Linked DNA regions of Homo sapiens: region 2 is linked to region 1. The links come from fine-mapping of genetic effects on gene expression. A gene starts in region 1. The other region holds a variant in brackets. All regions are shown on one strand. Distances are from middle to middle. Region 1 holds the start of WNT4 (Wnt family member 4). Region 2 holds the start of LOC107985377 (a long non-coding RNA gene).

Region 1 (2,895 bases):
GTCTTGATGCAGAGAGAATTTTTTCCTCTCTCCCTGTCTCCATGGAAACCCCAGCTACACTGTTGGCGATCCCCCTTCCCACCCCATGCTTTTCAGATCAATATTGGAGCTTGGCTCCCCACTGGCTGCCCACAGCGGATGGTGGCAGAGCTCTGGGCAGGAGGAACTGGGGCCAGGGTTAAGCGCGGGGCATGGGGAACTGTCCCTGAGCGGGGATGAAAGGAGCGCGGGTCCGCTTGCTCCCTGTCCACCCACTCACTGGAGCTCATCCCTTTAGTCTCCCTCCCTGCAGCAAACCTTCCGCCCCTACCCAGGGAGCGCCCTGAGCGCAGATCCAGTCAAGGAGAAACAGACAGGTCACCAGCGGTTACCACCCCTTCCTCCTTAGGCTAGACACGGGGAGCTGGGGGGCCGTTGTCTTCTTTAAGGTCTGGACGGAGTTTCTTCCTGCCCCGGGGAAAAACCAAGGCCCGGCCAGCGCCAGCGCCAGCCCCGGGCCCTGGGAGACCAGGCGTCCTGGTCCCTTCCTTCTGTCTCCGGCTCCCGCCCCCCAAGCAGAAACAGGTCCCTGCACGCCTCCAGCCCAGCCCGCAGCGCGGCGCAGCTCGGCGCAGCTCGGCGCTGGGAGCTCGCTCCGGACTTCTCGGGATTAACCTGCTATTATGTCCCGGAGCCCTTCCCTGCAATGGGCTTCCTCAGCGACCTGTCAGCCCGGCTGGACTGCAACCCGCGTCCGGCGCCCCTCCCGGGCCACCGCCCCGCGCTCGCACCCCTGGCGCCCTCGAGAGCCCCGAGCCGCCTACCGGTGCGGACGCCGCCACAGCCACCCCTGACGCCTCTGGGCAGGGAGCCGGACCCGGGCAGGAGGGGACCCCGGGTGTGCAGAGGGACGTTCGGGCCGTGGCGGCGGCAGCGGAGCGAGCGAGCCTCCGGTCCCGCGGCCGAGACACCTGCCGGGCTGCCCCGCGCCCGCTGCCCCGCGCCGCCTGGCACCGGCCGCTGCCCCCGGGGCCTGCCCCGCCCCGCCCCGCCCCGCTCGGCCCCGGCCAGACTTACAGCCAGTTGCTCGCGGCGGCTGAGAAGACGGCGAAGACGAGGAGGCGCAGCGAACGCAGGCACGAGCGGGGACTCATGGTGCCGCCGCGGGCGCCCGGCCCGGGGCAGCGGCTGCGGCCGCGGGGGGCCTCCCGTCGGGGCTGCAGGTGGGCGCCCGCGGGCGGGCCGGGGCGCGCGCGGCGGGGCTCTGCCTCCGTGTGCCTGCCGGCAGCCTGCCCGCTGCTGCGCCCGCTGCCCGGCGCGGACCAGACTGTCAGCGCCGCCCCAGAGCCGGGATGCGGCGGCGGCGGCGGCGGCGGCGGCGGCGGAGGCGGGCGGGCGGGCGGGCGGCCGGGGGGGCGGGCCGGGGGCGGGCCGAGGATGGGGTTACCTGGGCGGGCCCAGCGGCCCGGGACACCCCCCCGGGGGCGGGCCGGAGCGGCGGCGGCTGCCGCCTTAGCCCGCGGGACTGGGCTGCTCCCGGGGCCTCCCCGGCTGGGCGCTCCGGAGGACTTGGGGCCCGAGCCCGCTCCAGGCACGCCTGGCTGCGCGCCGCCGAGCCCGGCCCGGCTAGAGGCGCGGCGACCCAGCTGCCCGGCCGCCGCCCGGGCCTAGGGGACAGGCGGGCACAGCTCCCCCAACCCGCCGCTGCGGGCACTGCAGCGCGGCCCTCGCTGTCCCCCTACCCCCCCCACCGCCCCCCGCCGGCGCCTGGAGCCCAGACCCCGGTCCGACCGCGGCGGACCCACCGGAGCGCGGCTACCACTCGCGCGCACCCAGGCGCTGGCGCTCCGGGTGCCTGGGGCTGCACATCGGGGCGCTGGATGTCTCCCGACCGCCCCCCGCCCGGCCCCTCCCTGCCTCCTGGCCCCCGCGTCCTGCGGCCCAGCCCCTCCCTGGCGCTCACCTCCCTACAGCCTTCCGGGAGCTGGACGGGGCCTCCCCAGCTTTGGGCAGCTTGGGACAGTGGCCCGAGACTGTGGGAATCCGAAACCTCGCTTCTGGCTAGCCACAAGGTCTGGGCGCGCCCCAGGCAGCAGGGTCTTGACTCTGAGCCTCCGTTTTCTCATCCGGGAAGTGGGCTTAAGACGCTGTGATTGGGAGGACAGGAGGAGTTTAGGGAAGCTCTCTTGGCTCACTCACCAAGTCTTACTTTGCATTTGGTTTTCTATGTGCTTGTTCGATTTATCCTCCCATACTAGGCAGATTCAGCCTCTTGTTTGTTTTGGGCACAGGGCGGTGCCTGCCATGTTTGTGGAAGGAATAAATGAATGGAATGGAATGGGCTGCAACAGCCTGTGCTTGGCTAGTCCAGAGAGCTCAATTCCACATCACTGTAACCCCTAAGAATTGTCTGCCCAAGTCCACGCCACACCCTCTCAGGTCACTGATCTGATTCTGTGTGCTACTCATCCTCCAGGCTGCATCCCCCAGCTGCTCACAGGTAGAGGGACCTCTTATCTAAACAGTAAAACTAAGGCCCGGAAAGGGAGGCACCTGTCCCACCTCCCTAGGGGTTGGGAACAGAGGCAAGGACCAGGTCTATGCCCTCACCCCCTGATCTTAGTTCTTCACTGATTTTGGAGTATGAAGTTTGCTCCCACAGAGGCCATCATGTTTGGGTGCTGGGATGGTGCCCTGGGGTCCCCTGGGCTCAGAACAGAGGAAGGGCTCAGTAAACATTTGGTATTGGGACTGGGTGGAACGTGGCAGGGATTTGTGGGGCTGGGCAAGAGTATAGATGGAGGTTCACATACCATATGTCCAAATATTTGCAGGCTATAAATCAAGCTAACAAAATGCAAAATAAATTATGTTCTATTCTTCTATCTTGACAAATACACTTTCCTAACAAGGCAG
Region 2 (2,895 bases), 110 kb after region 1:
TAGACTCAATTCATTTGCAGTGTGGTGGAGGGGCTTGAGGTACAGCATAGAGGTGGGCAAGCCATGGCCGAATCCAGCTGGGCGCCTGCATTTGTGAAAAAAATAATGTCTCTGCACTGTCTATGGCTACATCAGCAAAGTGGAGTACTTGCAACAGAGACTGTCTGGCCCTCAAGTGCTAAAATATTTTCTCTCTGGCCCTTAGAGGAAAAGGTTGTTGGCTCCCCCACACTAATGGGCAGATTTCAGGTGTAAGTCACTGGCCAGTTGGGAATTAGAGGAGAGGTATTTGTTTGGCAGGGGGCGTGGGAAGGGCATATTTTGATGGAAGTTTTTTCTAGTGCACTGGTCAGGATCTCAAACTCAGATTCCTCTCTACGGCCTCAGTTTCCCTGTGTGTGAATGGAAATCGCTGTACCTGCCTGGCACAGTGGGTAAGGAGGGAAAGTCTCGTGCCTGGGCCAGGCTGGCGGAGCTGGGTTATTTATGGTTTCCGCCGGGAGGGGGGCTGCAGGCCGCGGGCCGTGTCTGACCTGAATTCTTACACTTACAGGAAATTAGAGCCCTTGGAAGCAGGTGCGCTGGGATCCTAACACTCGGGTGGCCGAGAGGGCGATGTGGCTGAGGCAACAGGGAAAGGGGGCTGGACTGGGCTGGGGGCTGGAGGAGGGGCCAGTCCCGAGGGGACGGGGCTCCAACCTCACCTTCCTGCTGTCGTGGAGAAGAAAAGTGGTAATGACCGCTACTGTGCACTGGGCTCTCGCTCTGTGCTTTGCTTGTGTTTGCTCAGTTAATCCTCCCAACATGCCTCTAAGGTAAGATGATTGCCCCTCATTTTACAGATGGGGAAACTGAGGCTCAGTGAGGTGTGCTCACTTGCCCATGAGCACAGAGCAGGCGTTAGAGTCAGGATTTGAACCCAGGAAAGGCTGTACAATTCCAATTCTTATATCCTCTTTTCCATACCAGCCACCTATGGGCAACAAGGTCTCCAAGGAAACTCCAGAACATTCTGTGGGTTTCAGTGGTTACCTGCTGAGGCGGCATTGGGCATGGAGCATCCGAGGGTCCAAGGTGAGAAAGAATCAGGGTGTGTGGCTTATGGTCCAGTTCCAGGGTTGGAGCGGGAGGGTGAGTGGTCGGCGTCTGTGGCAAGCAGCTGTGGGGCTTTTGGGAGCTGGCCGTAGGCAAGGGAGTGCCAAGTGTCTGCAGTCAGAGGCCAGGAGCCTGGGAGGCTGGAGAGATGGGGTCTGGTCTGCCCTGAGGTCGGGCCTGGCCGGGGGTGCCCTGGGTGGGCTGCCTGTCTGCAGCGGGCAGGTAGGTGAGCCTCGTGCACACTGGGTCATGTGTGACGAGTCTTTGATTTATAAGAATGTGTGGGAGTGTGAACTCATGTGCAACAGTGTGAGTGTGAGACAGGGTGGGTGTGATTGTTTGAATATTTG[T/G]ATGTTTGCAGAGGCGGGTGAGGCTTGGTAAGGGCCAAGATGTCTTCAATTTGGGGACTTTCTTTATTAAAAGGAATGCAAAATGACAAATACTAAAGAGACTTTAAAACGAGAAAAGAAACCACAACGAATTACTCAATTTTTAAGCTGACAAATACCACAAACATTACCAAATCCAGAAAAAAATCATAATATTTTTATTAATTAACTCCCTGGCACATTCCTGTACTACTGATTTTTATTTCTCTTTTTGGCTTTGACCATCGTGTGAACACATTGCAAGGGCCCTCCCGGGGCTCTGGAAGGAGGCTGCAGCTCCAGCCTTGGGATGTGTGAGTTTGTGTGAGCGACTGAGGGCGTGGGTGTGTGTGCGGGTGTGACCAAATGTGGGGGCCTGTTTCACAAAAGAGAGATGGAGAGCAAGGCTGTCATGGCAAACTGGCTCAATGGGTATTTGTTGAATAAATAAAAAGGACGATCGCATATGTGAGAGACTGTGTGTGGAGGAGATGCATGTGTGTTTAAGCACGTGCACATGCGTGAATGCATGCATGTGCAGTAGTGGCCGTGGGAAAGAGTGTGTGTGAGTCTGTGTGATCCCTCGGTGTCTTTTCTTTGGCATTCTAGTTTTAGGGAGCCCCTCCCTGCCTGCACCTCCACCCCCACCCATACCCCGCCCAGAGGCAGATGGGCACAGACACGCTGTGGCATTTGGTCCAGGCCTTGCGGGGACAGGCTCAGTGCGCGGAATTCACAGCTCCTTCCCCTGCCCCACCTCCCCTCCTCCCACCGATGAAATGTTGGTAATTCAATCCACGGAGAAGCCCGATGTCCCGGGGAGAGGCTGGCATGGGCAGTGTGTGTGTGTGTGTGTGTGTGTGTGTGTGTGTGTGTGTGTGTGTGTGAGAGAGAGAGAGAGAGAGAGAGAGAGAGAAAGAGACAGAAAGAGAGAGACAGGCAAGCAGAGAGAGAGGAGACACTTGCATTTTTCCAAGCTGGTGGGCTCCCAGCTCATGCCCTTCCTTGTACAAATGGGGACCCCAAGCCTTAGGGGCAGGGAGGGGACATGTCTGAACAAATGAGTGGGAGCAGGTTGGGACCAGAATTCAGCTCTCCCAGGTCAGTGTTTCCGATACAAATAGCCCTTGAAGAGCACTTGCTATGGGCTAAGTAAGCATTGGGTCAGGCTGAGGGGTGGAGGGTGCTTGGACAGAAAGAATCCTGAGTTGCAGCCACTTTTAGAAAAGTAGGGGACTCTGCGAAAGGGAAAGGGGATATGTCTGTGTTTTGGGGGAGCAGCCATGGAGAAGCAGGCAGGGCTAGATTGTGGGGGTCCAGCCCACCAGCCTGGGGAGCCTGGTTTGCTCCTGAAGGGAATGGGAAGGGGTTAGAGGGTCAAGGGTAGTGGGTGGGACGGGCACAGATTTGGGTTTCAGAAGGAGAACTGGCT

What was found. PIP is the estimated chance that this variant, and not a neighbour inherited with it, causes the effect.
Region 2: its variant is the best candidate, but not a certain one, in a credible set for the expression of WNT4 in nasal epithelium (TOPMed, PIP 0.88).

Annotation. Positions count from the first base shown.
Region 1 is chr1:22,141,790-22,144,684 of GRCh38, forward strand. It overlaps WNT4 (Wnt family member 4), which reads right to left and starts at 1,308. Exons shown (of 5, transcript NM_030761.5): 1 at 1,057-1,308. The coding sequence starts at 1,133. The region is part of intron 1 of LOC105376845 (a long non-coding RNA gene); the gene reads left to right. RefSeq lists silencers at 776-835, 1,398-1,727.
Region 2 is chr1:22,251,860-22,254,754 of GRCh38, forward strand. It overlaps LOC107985377 (a long non-coding RNA gene), which reads left to right and starts at 706. Exons shown (of 5, transcript XR_001737789.1): 1 at 706-815; 2 at 970-1,074. RefSeq lists enhancers at 1,854-2,758, 2,759-2,895. The variant T/G (reference allele first, on the strand shown) is at 1,446.